Regions from separate parts of the Homo sapiens genome. Here region 2 is linked to region 1. Evidence: fine-mapped expression QTL. Tissue or cell type: whole blood. Region 1 holds a variant in brackets; the other region holds the start of a gene. All regions are shown on one strand. Distances are between the middles of the regions.

Region 1 (8,194 bases):
TAATCTCTGTGTGATGATTTTCATCAAGAATTCCGACTAAGGAGATTTTATTCTTTTAAGAAGATTTGTTCAACATATACTTACATGAGATTTTGTTCTTTTTAAAGACTGTGTAAATAAATTATCTGATTAAGAAAAATTTTTCTACTTTGTTTTGACTCTTGAATAGGGAAATGCTTGCCTATATTTAAATGCAACCTGCTAAAAATACTTGTTCTGACCTATTAGTGAAGTATATCACACTATCTAAAGCAATCTGTAGATTTAATGCACTCGCTATGAAAATCTCGCTGATGTTTTTTGCAGAAATAGAAAATCCCACCCTAAAGTTCATATGGAATTGCAACAGACCTCAAGTAGTCAAAACAACCTTGAGAAAGAACAAAACTGAAGGATTTAACAATTCCTGATTTCAAACTTGCTACAGTTCCAGTAGTCAAAACAGTGTGGTACTGGCCTAAAGGCAGATATATTGACCAATGGAATAGAATAGAGACCCCAGAAATAAATCCTTGCCTAAATGGTCAAGTGATTTTTTGACAAGTGTGCCCAAACCACTCAATGGGGAAAAGACAGTCTTGTTAAGAAATGATGAAGTGAAAAACTACATAGGCATATGCAAAAGAATGAAGTTGGACCCTTGCCTAATAACATATAGAAGAATTAACTCAAAATGAATAAAAAACCTAAATGTAAGAACTACAACTATAAAAATTTTAGGGGAAATTGTAGGATAAAATCTTCAAGACGTTGGACTTTAAGATGACTTCTTGGCTATGACACCAAAGGCACAGACAACAAAAGAAAAAATAGGCAAATTGGACTTCATGAAAATTTAAGAATTTTGTGCATCAAAAGACAACATCAACACAATGAAAAGGCAACCCAGAGCAATATGGCCAATGAGAGTTGCCTAGTGCTCATCCCTCCCCCAAAAGGGGATCTAAACAACAAGTAAACAACTATATTTCAACTAGAGTGACGAGGAAGTATGCTGGACCGCACTAGGGGAGCAGCAAACTTCCTGTGGTGCATGGAAGGCCAGGACAGCACCATGGACAGGTGAGCGAGGCATCCTGCCTCTGCCACAGTCTCCCCCAGTGGAGACTTGGCAGTCATGGGGTGCTGTTTATGGGGAAATGTATGCTGGTGATTCCCAGCAGTCCCCATTGCCACCAGAAATGCTAGCAGTCTTTGATATAGGAGTCCCCTAAACTTCACAGGCCCCCAATCCAGTTTGGAGAGTAGCCGGGAGCTCACACAGATGCAATGCCTCAGTGTCCACATTGAGGACCCGCAACCTAAGCAGCTTCAACTCTGTCCCATCTTGAACCTTTCCCACTGCTAGAGTGCATCCTGCCCTGCGCACCAGTAGCAATTGACTCTTTTCATCCTGGAGGCCTAGCTGTCCTTATACCACATTCACACAGGTACCTGCAGCACTATGACCATAGCTACCCAAAGCATAGGTCACATGGAATGACTGAGACCCCAGTGTTCAAACCCAAGTGACACACCACATCCCCCCACCCCCCAGGGAACAGGCAGATCTGTACGGTGCTGAAGTCACTGAACAGTCAGCCAATTACCTCTCCTGCACGTACCTGCACCATAGCCACCTGTCCCACCAAGCGCGGTGCATCCATAGCTGGTCCAACTGTTGGTCCTGTGGCAGCCTCGTTCCCGCATACAGACACCCAAAGAGCAGCTGAATGCTGCTATTCTATGTCTAGCCTGACAGCTGGTCCAGTAGCAGCCCTCCCTCCCAAATAACTGCAAGGCTGCCCAACCCCATTTCACACTGGCATCCAGCCCAAGAGCTGGGCCAGTGGTGGACCTGCTCCTCTAGACAGACTCCTACAGGGCCACCTGACACAGCTGCACCTATGTGCAGCTGGCACAGCATCAGACCAGTAGACTCTTCATCCATCCTCTTGAAGAGACAGCCACGTAGCTGCTCAGCTAGCCACACCCATATGCACCTAAGCTCAGCCCAACAGCCAGACTAGTGGTGGCCCCACCTCCCTGAAAAGCCTGTTGGAGAGCCTTTTCGCCCTCCACACCCATACATATTCAGCCCAACAGCCAGCCCAACACCCCTACTCCCAGCAAAACCACACACTACGACCACCACAAATACCTACAGCATAGGCCATTGAGGCAATTGCAGACATTGCTGATGAAGATTGCAGCTGAAAAAACTACATGTAGACCATGCTACTGAGTCCACCCAGAACTAAAGCTAACTCACCACACTCAAATGACACCTTGGGACCTATCTACAGGAAGAATTATCTCCTAATGAAAGTTACTTCATAAACCTGGAAAGGGTCACTATTCCACTAGATGTTCAGATATCAGCATAGGGACACAAGCAATGTGAAAAAGCAAGGAAATGTGATACCTGCAAAGGAATACAATAAGTCTTTAGTAAAAGACCCCAAAGAAAAGGACATTTATGAAATGCCTGAAAATAAGATAATCTTAAGGAAACTCATGGAGATACAAGAGAATACAGCAAATAATTCAGTGAGATCAGGAAAACAATTCATCATCCGAATGAGAAATGCAACAAAGATAAGTGTCATAAAGAACCAAACAGAAATCTTGGAGCTGAGGAATTATGAATGAAATAAAAAGTGCAAGTGAAAGCTTCAACAACAGACTAGATCAGGCAGAGTAATTTCTGAACTTGAAGACAGGCCTCTTGAATTATCCCAGTCAGAGGGAAAAAAAAATAAGAATTTTAATTGAAGAAAGCCTGTGGGACTCATGCGATACCATTAAATGAACAAATGTGTGCATTATAGGAACTTCGTAGGGAGAAGAGTTGGAGAAAGACACAGAAAACCTATGTAATGAAATAATAGATGAAAACTTCCCTAGTCTTGGCAGAAATACGGACATAGGAATTCAGCAAGTTCAGAGGTCCCCAGTTAGATTCAGTCCTCTCTGAGGCACATTATAATCATACTCTCAAAAGTTAAAGACAGAATTTTAAAAGCCACAAGAAAACAGTGTCACATCACACACAAGGGAATGTCCATTAGACTACTAGTAGATTTCTCAGCAGAAACCTTGCAGGTTAGAAGAGAATGGGATGATATATTCAAAGTGCTGAAAGAAGGGGGGCTTGTGGGGAGGAGGAACTGTCAGCCAAGAATATTATATCCAACAAAGTTATCCTTCAGAAATGAAGGAGAAATAAGACCTTTTCAGACAAGCAAAGGCTGAGAGAATTTGTGACCAGTAGGTTGGCCTTATAAGGAATGCTTAAGGGAGTGCTACCACTGGAAAAGAAAGGACAATAATTATCATGAAAACATGTGAAGGTGTAAAACTCACTAGTAGAGGTAAATTCATAAAATACTCTAGTGATTTAATGGTCCTATGTAAATCTCTCAATCCTCTAGTATGAAGACTTAGAAGTCAAAAAGGTCAAAAACAACAACAACCACACTTAGTGGCTACAAATATATAATAAATAAGTAGATTAAGGCAACAAAAATATTAATTGTGTATGGGGTTAAGTCTAGAATATTTTCATGCAACCAGATTTAAATTGCTATCAGGTTGATGTAGTCTATTGTAACTACAAGACTCTTATGTTAGCCCCATGGTAACCACAAAGAAAGAAATTAC[G/T]ACAGAATAATAAACAGTAAAGAGAAAGAAAACAAAACTTCGCAGCACAGAAAACCACCAAACCGCGAAGGAAAATAACATGAGTAAAAGAAAGGGGAAAAGGATCTACAAAACAAGCAGAAAACAACAATATGGCAGGAATAAATTTTTATTGATATGACCTTGAATATAAATGGATTAAAGTCTCAAATTTAAAAACACAGAGTGGTCGAACAGGTTTTAAAAATAAGACCCAACTATCTGCTGGCTACAAGAGGCTCACATCATCATTAAAGACAAACATAAACTGAAAGTGAAGGAATGGAAAAACATATTCCATACAAACAGAAACCAAAAGTGAGCAGGAGTAGCTATAATTGTATCAGATAAGACAGATTTTAAGTCAAAAACTGGAAAAAGAAAAAAGGTCATTATGTCATGATTAAAGGATAAATTCAATAAGAGAATATTGTAACAAATACATATGCACTCAACCCTGAAACATACAGATGTACAAAACAAACATGATTGCACATAAAGGTACAGATCAACTGCAATACAATTATAAAAGGGAAGTTTGGCAAAGAAATATCAGACTAAAACTACATCAAAGACCTAATGCACCTAGCAGATATTTACAGAACATTTTAACAGCTGCAGAATACAAATTCTTCTCAATTACACATGAAACATTCTCCAGGATAGAGCACATGCTAGGCCACAAAACAAATCTTAACAGATTTGAGATAGAGATCCTATCAAGTATCTTTTCTAACCACAGTGGTATGAAACTAGAAAACAACAACATGAGCAACTTTGGATACTTTGAAATACGTGGAAATTAAACAACATGGCCCTCAACAACCAGTGGGTCAATTAAATTAACAGAGAAATGAAAAATTGCTTTGAGACAAACAAGAATGCAAACACATCTTACCAAAACCTGTGAGACACAGCGAGAGAGCAGTTCTAACAGGGAATTTTATAGCAATACACAGCTACATTAGAAAAGAAGAGAGATTTTTAATGAACAACCTAATGACGTACCACAAGGAACTAGAAAAACAAGAACAAACTGAACCCAAAATTGATAGAAGGAAAGGTAGAATAAGGCTCAGAGAAGAAATAAAGACAAATTAACATTCAAAAGATCAAGAAAACGAAGAGTTGGTTTTTTTGAAAAGATAAGCAAAATCAACAAACTTTAAGCTAGACTAAAAAAAACAAGACTCAAGTAAAATCAGAGATGGAAAAGGAGATGTTACAACTGATACTACAGAAATACAGAAAATTATAGAGAATATTATGAGCTGCTATATGCCAACAAATTTGATAATATGGAAGAAATAGATAAGTTCTTGGACATATACAAACTACTGAGATTCAATTATAAAGAAATTAAAGATCTGAACAGACTAATAACTAGTGAGACAATTAGTTATAAAAAGTCTTTCCTGGATAGAGAAAATGTGGCACATATACACCATGTGGAATACTGTGCAGCCATAAAAAAGAAAGACTTTATGTCCTTTGCAGGAACATGGATGAAGCTGGAAACCATCATTTTCAGCAAACTAACACAGGAACAGAAAATCAAACATTGCATGTTCTCACTGATAAGTGGGAGTTGAACAATGAGAACACATGGACACACGGAGGGGAGCATTACACACTGGGACCTGTCGGCGGGTAGGGGGTAAGAGGAGGGATAGCATTGGAGAAATTCCTAATGTAGATGATGGGTTGATGGGTTCAGCAAACCACCATGACACATGTATACCTATGTAACAAACCTGCACTTTCTGCACATATATCCCAGAACTTAAAGTATAATAAAAAATAAAAAAATTTAAAAAAAATGTTTCATCAAAGAAAAGCTTAGGACCTGATGGCTTCACTACTGAATTCTACAAAACATTTGAAGAAGAACTAATAACAGTTCTCCTCAAACTATTCCAGAAAATTGATAAGTGGGGAGTATTTGTAAAATTTTATGAGGCCAGCATTACCCTGATCCTGAAACCAGACAACGATACAACAACAACAGCAAAACTACAGGTAAGTATCTGTAATGTGAACATAGATGCAGAAATTCTTAATAAGATATTAACAAACTGAATCCAGCAGCACATTAAAAAGATCATTCACTGTGATCAAGTATTACTCATACCAGTGTTGCAAGGGTAGTTTAACGTATGCAAGTCAATAAGTGTAATACATCACATTAACAAAAAGAGACAAAAACAATATGATCATTTCAGTAGATGCAGAAAAAGCATTTGACATCCTTCAACATTCTTTCATAAAAACTCAACAAATTAGTTATGGAAGGTATGTACCTTAACACAGTAAATGTCATGTATGAAAAACCCACAGCTGACATCATACTGAATGAGGAAAAGCTTTCTTTTAATATATGGAACAAGACAAGGATGCCAACTTCTGCTACTTCTGTTCAACATAGTACTGGAAGTCCTAGCCTAAGCCATTAGGGAAGAGAAAGATATAAAAGGCATCCAAATTGGAAAAGAGGAAGTCAGATTGTCCTGTTTGCAGACATGATCTTACATATAGAAAACCGAATGGGAGAAAATTTTGGCAACCTTCTCATCTGACAAAGGGCTAATATCCAGAATCTACAATGAACTCAAACAAATTTACAAGAAAAAAACAACCCCATCAAAAAGTGGGCAAAGGATATGAACAGACACTTCTCAAAAGAAGACATTTATGCAGCCAAAAGACACATGAAAAAATGCTCATCATCACTGGCCATCAGAGAAATGCAAATCAAAACCACAATGAGATACCATCTCACACCAGTTAGAATGGCAATCGTTAAAAAGTCAGGAAACAACAGGTGCTGGAGAGGATGTGGAAAAATAGGAACACTTTTATACTGTTGGTGGGACTGTAAACTAGTTCAACTATTGTGGAAGTCAGTGTGGGGATTCCTCAGGGATCTAGAACTAGAAATACCATTTGACCCAGCCATCCCATTGCTGGGTATATACCCAAAGGACTATAAATCATGCTGCTATAAAGACACATGCACACGTATGTTTATTGCGGCACTATTCACAATAGCAAAGACTTGGAACCAACCGAAATGTCCAACAATGATAGACTGGATTAAGAAAATGTGGCACATATACACCATGGAATAGTATGCAGCCATAAAAAATGATGAGTTCATGTCCTTTGTAGGTACATGGATGAAATTGGAAATCATCATTCTCAGTAAACTATCGCAAGGACAAAAAACCAAACACCTCATGTTCTCACTCATAGATGGGAATTGAACAATGAGAACACATGGACACGGGAAGGGGAACATCACACTCTGGGGCCTGTTGTGGGGTGGGGGAAGGGGGGAGGGATAGCATTAGGAGATACATCTAATGCTAAATGACGAGTTAATGGGTGTAACACACCAGCATGGCACATGTATACATATGTAACCTGCACATTGTGCACATGTACCCTAAAACTTAAAGTATAATTAAAAAAAAAAAACCAAAGGACTCTACTAAAGAACTGGTAGAACTAATAAATGAATTCAGTAGTTATGGGATACAAAATCAGCATACAAGAATCAGTAGTCTTTCTATATATTAACCATTATTAATATTGGTTCATTAACTATCTGAAAAAGAAATCAAGAAAACAGCTCCATTTACGATAGCTTAAAAAAAAAAAGATAATAGAAACAAAACCAAATTGAAAGCTCTCTATATTGAAACTCTAAAACTTTAACAAAAGAAATTGAAGAGGACACAAATAAATGGCAAGCTACTTTGTCTTCATGGTTTGGAAGAATTAATATAGTTAAGATGGCCATATTACCTAAAATAATCTACAGATTTGATGCAATTCCTATCAAAATACTAATGACATTCTTTACACAGATAGAAAAAAAAATCCTAAAATTCATATGGAACCACAAAAGGACCCAAATAGCCAAAGCAACCCTGAGCAAAAAGAAAAACCTGCAGGTATCACACCAACCAAGTTCAAAATGTACAGTTGACTCCTAAAGAACTTAGATTTAAACTGTGCAGGCTCACTTTTATGTAGATTTTCTTCTGCTTCTGCCACCCCTGAAACAGCAAGACAAATCCCTCAACAGGAAGCCTACTCACCAGGAAGACAATGAGGATGAAGACCTTTATAATACTCCACATCCACTTAATAAATAATAAATATATTTACTCTTCCTTATGTTTTTCTTAATGACATTTTCTCTAGCTTTATTGTAAGAATATAGTATATAATGTATGTAACAGACAAAATATGTTAATTGACTATGTTATCCGTAAGGTTTCTGATCAATAGTAGGCTATTAATAGTTTTTTGGGGGAAGTCAAAAGTTGTTCAAGGGTCACTGCTACTACAAAGTTATGGGAACCTAAACATGTTACTGGCTTTAAAAACAGACGCATAAACCAGTGGAACAGAATAGAGAGCCGACAAATAAATTTACATACCTATAGCCAACTAATTTTTCATAATGGTGGCAAGAACACACATTAAGGAAAAGACAAATCTCTTTAGTAAATGGTGCTGGGAAAAT
Region 2 (8,155 bases), 110 kb before region 1:
GAGCCTTCCAAACTCTTCCAACCTCTACCCATTATCTTGTTCCAAAGTCAGTTCCACATTTTCAGGTATCTTTATAACAAAACCCCACTCCTGGTACCAATTTTCTGTAATAGATCATTCTTGCATTGCTATAAAGAAATACCCGAGACTGGGTAACTTATAAAGAAAAGAGGTTTAATCTGCTCACAGCTCTGCAGGCTTTATAGGAAACATGGTGCTGACATCTGCTTGGCTTCTGGGGCAGCCTCAGGAAGCTTATAATCATGGAGGAAGGCGAAGGGGAAACAGGCATGTCACACGGTGAAAGCAGGAGCAAGACAGCGAGAGTATGGGACAGGTGCCACACACTTTTAAGTGGCCAGCTCTCATGTGAACTCAGAGCAAGAGCTCACTTATCACCAAGGGTATGGCCCAAGCCATTCATGAGGGATCTACCCCCACGATCTAAACACCTCCCACCAGGCCGATCTCCAACACTGGCTTTTATAACTCAACATGAGATTTGAGCAGGGACAAATATCCAAACTCTATTATGTATTTACGCTCAGGAGTACAAAGTTTCCATAAGCACCACCATTGCCTATTCCTTAACACAATATGTTAAGTTATAAATAAACAATATGGTTTGCCACTTAACAAGAAGTAGAAAGTTCAGTAGCACATCCTTATCTCCAATGCTGCCAGACATGTAACTAAGTGAGGTAGTTATTAGCTTCCTTTTCATAAGAAAATTCAATGCTTTTATAAAGTTTTTCAGTGCCTCTAGAAAAGCGGAAGCCTTTACAAAGGAGATTTGCTTTATGTTAATTATGCAAAATCAAGGGTTATTAACAAAAGACCATGTGAATGAGAGAAGCTGAGGAATGTAACTTCATCTTACTCTAATACTCAAATGGCAGATAATTATTTCTGGACAGAGTATGGAGCCACAGAAATAAAATACTCTAACCTTGAAAATTCAGCTACTCAGGAGGCTGAGGCTGGACAATCACTTGAACCTAGGAGGCGGAGGTTTCAGTGAGCCAACATCGCGCCACTTCACTCCAGTGTGGGTTACAGAATGAGACTCCATCTCAAAAAAACAAACAACAACAACAACAATTCCTGCTCCCTTTTTGTATTATGGATAGACATATCAACTTTATGGGTGACAATTACATTGGAAAGGACAGTGAATGCGATAAGTAACACCATCAAATCCAAAAGGTCTTGATAAGCTACAACAATGGGCCAATTGTAACAGACGAAATGTGACAGATATAAGATCTTCCTCTTTTATCAAAAAATGAATTGCAAAAGTACAGAATACAGGGAAAGTTTAACAATAACATGAAATGACATAGTACTTTTCTGAAAGAAAGATTAACATGATGTCACTGTCAAAAAAATGATGCTTAGAGCATGGACTGCATCATTAGAGTAACGGTATCATTTCCACTCAGAAGGGCATGCTTTTCTAGGAGGCATATTGGAATATCTGGGAAGTGTGTACCTGAAATTGAGGAAAGCATAGTCAATATTATTATGTAATTTTAAAATTAAAAATACAGAAAAAAAGAGACAAAATGAAGCTTTACAAAATCTTCCAGGCTGGGCATCTAGGAAATAAGCAGTGATTTTTTAGTGGGTTAGGGATGGTCAGGCTTGGGAGCATGACATTTTCGTGTATAGCCAAGGGAAGTAGTTATTGAGTAATTCAGTTTTTGAGTAATTCAGCTGGAAGAAGGAGAAAAGAGTCAACTGTACTCTCATTCGTAAGACCCACCGTATATCCTCTGGTTCTGCTTTACATTTAATTCACTTGTTTCCAAATGTTTATTGAGCATCAGCTATGTGATACGTACTCAGCGCACTGAGGATAAAGCAGAGAACAAGACAGCCATACAAGACTATCAGCTGATGTCTCCCAGCTTCACAAAGCACACTTCCCAGCTCCATCTTGCTTGATTTCCTGAGCCAGTCCTGAGGCAAAAACCTTAATATTCTTATCTGGTGAAACATACATTGAGCCAACTTCCCAGATCTAGTGGCCAAGGGATAAGTTTCCTGATTCCAAATTGTGTCACCATGAAGTTTCACTGCTAGCAATCAGGACCCTGGACAGGCTAACCATCATCCTAGCAAATTAATCAAACCTGAGAAGGGGGTGTGGGAACCCTGATTTATAGCTGGTCAGTCAGAAGTGTAGGTGACAGTCAACCTAAAGTCTTGTGGAAATGAACCCTTAACTTGTGGGATTTGACTATAAGTTGAGGTAGACAGTGTCAGAATTAAGTTAAACTGTAAGACACCGAGCTGGTGTCTGCTGGAGAACTGTTTCATGTGTGGGGGATTCTCTGGTGTCAGAAGTGTTGAGCCAGTGGAGAGTAGCAAAAACAGTTTGGTTTTTCCTATCTCAAACAGGAGTGAAAACAAATTCCTATGAAACAGAAGTGAATGGAGGCATGCAGCTCAAAATAACTTCAAGAGAGACATGCAGGAGGGCTGGGACTCTCTGTTCCAGGTGTAACCTGGATGTGGGGCTGGCTGGTGCAGTGTGAGGGGCTAAAACCAAAGTCAGGGAGTTGCCCTAACTGGCACTCACAATCCACCATTTCCCTCCACCTGCAAAGGTAGCCGGGTGATGACCTGCAGGCATAATACTGGGTTCTTGCCTCTGAAGAAATTCGACTATCAGTCTAGGGATCTAGGAGGAAAACAATACAAACAAACAAGAGACCACTCCAGCTATCTAGAAAAACCAGTTCAGATCTTCACACTTGAACTCAAAAGAACAACCAAGAATCAATCACCAGAGAGGGGAAGAATCTTTCTTTTCTAGGGAAAAGACTAGATAAATACACGTAAGAATGGACCCTTGAAGAAACATAATTGAGTGAACAGAAGAGAGGTTTAAAAACTATTATCCTCGGTGATACCTGAGAAGAGAGTACATTCATGAAACAAATGCAGGGTGTTATTATAGGCCGGCAGTCCAATAGGACTGGTGTCCTTAGAAGAAGAGACACCAAGGGTGTGACTGCATAGAGAAAATGCCCTGGAGGGACACCAAGAGAAGACAGTCGTCCACGAGGCAGGGGAGAGGCCACAGGATAAATCAAATCTGCTGGCACCTTGATCTAGAACTTCCAGGATTGTGAGAAATTTCTGTTGTTTAAGCCATCCAGGCTGTGGTATATTGTTACGACAGCCCTAGCCGACTAACACAGGTACTGTATGTCTTCAGCCTACCTAGGCAAGATTCACTATTAGAAATTGATAGAATAAGAAAAATTCTGATTGCTTCAAAACAGGACTTTTGCTTTAAAAGAGTTAATGATTCAAGAAATAAATGTATTAGGAGATTACCTACTAATACGTATTGATGAAATTATGAAGTTAGAAAATCATCAGTGGATGCTAAAACTTGTGGGTAAAAATTAGATGAGGAATGGGGTGTAATCAAGTAGCACCTCCCCCCAGCATTATTTTTAATCATAAAGAAAAAAATAGTAACTTTATGGTGAAGAAACCTGGCAGACACTACCTTATTTAAGTGAACATCACCTATACTGGGAGAAACCGATGCCATCTGTACCTTGATATCATGCACTGGAAAAGACACATCGCTTTAGTGGTGTTTCTCCAAAAATTCATAACCTGAAAGGGAACATCAAACTTACTTTGAAGGATATTCCACACAATACCTGGTCTGTATTCTTAAATAATGTCTAGTTCAATAAACATAAAAGCCAAGGACGGTTCCAGATCAAAGAAGACTAATGGAGGAATAACTCTTTCATCTGGAATGTTTTTTAAGCAAGAAATACCTGCTTTCGAATTTAAGAGTGCAGATCCTTTTTTTATCCAATTGGTTCGGAGATATAATTACATTATTTTACCACATCTCCTTAAGGCTTTGATCCCTGCTACAATCTACAATATATAAATGCATATGTGTGGCATCCGTCTTATCATCAATTTAGGTGACCAGTAGAAGAAAAGTGCCTGGTGCCAATTTTTATTCCATAGTATAAAATAGTCTCTCAGGACAGGGTTTTTGGTGAGAGAAGCACAGGATGTTGCTGGGTGACTGAGACTGGGTCAGGAAATAGGGAGGCAGAGGGCAACAGTTTCTCTAGAATTTAAAATTTGGTTGCTTTTGGAAGAGAAAGCAAGAGATTCCTGGAAGCCAGAACGTCATGTTTCACAAATGTAAAAGTCCTAGTTGGGAAAGACACATCGCTTTAGTGGTGTTTTCAAATGACTTTTAAAATAGTAGGGTTTTACTTGTAGGTTCTAGCTACAAGTAAAAAGGCTAAAAGCCAGCCTTAGAAACCTGTCAAAAAAGATTTCCAGCAGGGCGCTGGGGAAACGCAGACCGCGCCGGAATCCCCGCCTGGAGAAGCTCTTAATAGGGCGGGAAACTGCGTGCCCCACAAGGTCCCTCAGAGGCACATTGTGGAGACGGGCTCAGGGTAGCAACTTCTGGCGAGTGGAGCGGCTATTACACAAGCGAAACATTCGGAAGCAATTTACTTCCAGCTTTCGCAACACCCACCCTGAGCCACCACCCTCCCTTACACAGTCACGCCACAAACTTCCCCACTTCCGCCCACAGCCCTCTGGGCTTCGACCCATCAACTGAGCTTGCGCCAAGTCTACTGCGCACGCGCCAACTTCGGCCCAATCAGCGTCCCAAACCGTGGGGTGGACGCCACCGGGATAAACTATCCTCAGCGTGGGGCGGGGTCTCGAAGCCGAATAACGAACGTGATTAGCCAGCCTCTTCCACAGACTTTTAAGGGCGGAGCCTGGCCCTGGAGACACGTCTGGAGAGCTGTTCTCCTAATATGGGTAGGGTCGGGCGTGGAGCTGGCAGCGGCGCTGTGTGCGCCTGCGCGGGGCGCCGAGACAGGGCGTGTTCGCTGTTCAGTGCCGGTGTTGCAGGGAGTGAGGGCAGCTGGAGTGCGTTCTGCCGAAGCTTGTGGTTGCACGCCCATCGTCTTAGGGGCTACCTTCCGTGGTGAGTGTGTGCGGTGTTGCACTTGGGGTTGCTTCTCGCTGCGTGGCCGCAGCGGGGCTGAACCCTTCCCACTCCATCCCCTCCCCGCACCCGGACCAGCCCCTGGGACGCCCTCGGACGCCCACCCGCTCCAACCCTGGGGAAGCCTCAGAGTGGCAGCGAAGGCCTCTTGCCTTTCCGCCTCTGCGCTTGCTGTCATCGCCCACGTGCTTTGTTGTTGTTCGGTGCAGACCATGTCCAAGTCTCTGAAGAAGTTGGTGGAGGAGAGCCGGGAGAAGAACCAGCCCGAGGTGGACATGAGTGACCGGGGCATCTCCAACATGCTGGATGTCAACGGCCTCTGTGAGTTCTCGGGCAGGACTCTCCCGTGGATGAGCTGGAAGGCTTTCTAAGTTTGCCAATTCACTGCTGGTCCTGCTGTGAGCGATTGTACTGGTTTAGACCCCAGCCCCTGCTTGTAAACCTCACTTGTCAGGGGCTTCGCGCAGAGGGTTTGCAGTAGGATTTGTTCTGTTCCACCTGGAAAACGATCCTGAGAGTCCACGATGAGAATCACACAGACAGCTGTGCCTCATCGGTTGTCTCTGCTGTATGGCATTGAGGTGGATTTTCCACAGTTTGCTTAATAGTCACTTTAATTATAAATTGAAAATTAATTTTGAGTCCTTCTTCCTGTCTCCTAATACAGTCTTTGTCCATGAACAAATGACACAGAAAAGTTCCATGGTTAATAAGCATTCTTGTGCCTGGAGCGTTTTAAGCATTTCTTGAATCTTTACATTCTTCTGAGTATTTATTCTCCGAACTTGGTTCAGGCTTTTGTCACCTCCTCATGCTGTGGTGAAATCCTCCTAACTTGCCCTCTTGCCTTCAGTTTCACTGCCCAGTTTAATCACTGGGTCACTTTCAGTGTCATTTTCCTGTAACCCCTGTCTATGGTGTTACCCTCTCCCTTAAAACCAGGGATTGCAGATTCACATGCCTCCAAGTGAGGGCGGTCAGGGGCGGTTATGAACTAGGTGATAGGTGTCCCACTTGAAGGGGCCAGCTGCTGCACCTGCTACTCAGACACATGTCACCATAGGAATGTTGGCCCAATGTGCCAGATTATTTTCTTAAAGGAACCAAGATTCTATATTTTTATGTGAAATTTGCTAATTTTTAGATGTTGGCTACTAATTCTAATATTTGAAAAACCTGTGATAAGTGAGCTAAAGCAGTTCTTCAGGCTGACGTGGCTTTGGTTTAAACCCTCTCCGCACTTCTCCAGGTTGTCCATTATCGACGGTAATGCTCCAGGTTTCTTGGCGTGATGTACAAGGCCTTTCTGAATCTGAACACAACCTTACCCTTCCATGCAGCTGGCATTCCAGCCATTCTGAACCTGTTGCCCTTCCTGGACCAGAGCCTACTCGTTCAGATCTTGGTGCCTTTACAAATTCTGTTTTCCCTCTTTCTCAGTCGTTTGCACCTGAAATCCTTTTACTTCTAAGAGTCAGCTTAGACATCACCACCTGTGTAAAACCTTATCCGTCTGCACCAGGCTAACATATCCCTTCCCTCCTCTGTGAAGGTGGTCGTGTGTATTGCTTTGTGACTCCTCTCACATAGGATTGTACTGATTTTTTTCTTTTTTAATCTAGAAGTCTCTCTTCTCTGCTGGGACATTGGGAAGACAAAAGCTGTGCAATATTCATGCTTGCATTTTTTTAATAATAGTGCCTGGAGCACAGTAGATGCTCAAAAATAGTTGAGGAATGAAGAAAATGAAAGAATGATGGATTAGGCCTGTGAGTTTGGGATATCAACTCCAGGATGTGACAAGAGAGAAGAAGGGAGATGTTCAGGAGACCCTGAAAGGCGATGGATAGCCATTTAGGCATGGAGAGAACTGCAGAGTCAGGTTTACTGTGAATTCACGGTTTTCACGGTTCGAAAACCTGCCTGGGACAGAGGTTGGAGTTGATGCTATTGATATGTCTTGGCAGAAGGAAAAGGGAGGAAACGTAGATTTGCGTTTCGTAGGCTTTATGAAAATACGTGCCATTAAACTTAGGTTGTGTACTAGTTAGCCTCTCAGGCTTGGTGTGTGTTGGTCTCTTGCATTCCGTAAGGGTCCTTGCTGTCAGCAACTGAGCAGATGCCTCTGGAATTGGATATCTGAGTTTGCCCCTTGCTGCGCCTGCCCGGCTCTGCCATGACCATGGTCATTATTGGGGGCACTGTTGATACAGAGGAGAAAGAGAAGGGGATAGGGAAGATGATGCATAGCGGGAACCTTGGCCCCATGGCCTTCCTCCCTACAGCACTCATTCTCACCAGGTAGAAGAGAGGCTGCTTTCAGCAGAGGAGCTTTGTACCCTTCGGCTTTTGAAGAGGAGACTTTATGTAATATTTATAAATGGGGAGAATGGCTTAGCTATTTCGGTTCAGCTCCGTTATCTCTTTGAAGCCTTGGCTTTTATTAAGGAAGAAAAGCCACTTGCTTCCTGAAATATATTTCCGGTATAACATTGGGTGGTGAAAAGCGAGATCATTCTTAAATTTTCCTAAAGAAGTAGCTAACAACGGATAATAGTACTTTTTGGGAAGTTGGGTGGAAGTGAATTTGGAGATTTGCAGATTCCATCTCCTCTGGCTTCTGTAGCATTGAGCCAAGGCTGCTCTCTGCAAACTCCCTGACCTCAGGACTTCTCGGAGCCTAGGGGGTTCCAGGATGCTCTTCGAAGCCTCCACCAGGGCTCACTTCTCAGCAGTGCACACACACTGACACAGTGCTTAATATATACAAGTATTAAAATACTTCACATGGCTACATTAATTATAAGTGTAAGAATTTTTTTTTCTTTTTTTTTTTTTTTTTCCTGAAAACAGGGTCTCGCTCTGTCACCCAGGCTGGAATGCAGTGGTGCAGTCACAGCTCCCTGGGGCCTCACCCTCCCAGGCTCAAGCAATCCTCCCACCTCAGCCTCCCGAGTAGCTGGGACTATAGGTACACGCCACCACGCCTGGCTAATGGTTTTATTTTTTATTTCTTTGTAGAGATGGGGTCTTGCTATGCTGCCCAGGCTGGCCTCAAACTCCTGGGCTCAAGGAGTGCCCCCATCTTGGCCTCCTAAAGTGCTGGCATTACACATGTGAGCTACCACA

The links. PIP is the estimated chance that this variant, and not a neighbour inherited with it, causes the effect.
Region 2: it holds the start of RSU1, and the variant in region 1 is fine-mapped to the expression of RSU1 in whole blood (TOPMed, PIP 0.97).

The regions. Positions count from the first base shown.
Region 1 is chr10:16,707,942-16,716,135 of GRCh38, reverse strand. All of the region lies in intron 7 of RSU1 (Ras suppressor protein 1), which reads left to right. LOC124902384 (a long non-coding RNA gene) reads left to right here. Exons shown (of 2, transcript XR_007062072.1): 2 at 1-139. Among named protein-coding and RNA genes, the nearest start is that of RSU1, 110 kb to the left of the region's middle. The variant G/T (reference allele first, on the strand shown) is at 3,643.
Region 2 is chr10:16,814,165-16,822,319 of GRCh38, reverse strand. It overlaps RSU1 (Ras suppressor protein 1), which reads left to right and starts at 4,896. Exons shown (of 9, transcript NM_012425.4): 1 at 4,896-5,005; 2 at 5,236-5,347. The coding sequence starts at 5,239. It overlaps LOC105376435 (a long non-coding RNA gene), which reads right to left and starts at 4,621. Exons shown (of 3, transcript XR_930708.3): 1 at 4,564-4,621; 2 at 3,578-3,639; 3 at 1,063-1,492. RefSeq lists enhancers at 4,278-4,327, 4,358-4,447, 4,478-4,587, 5,258-5,417.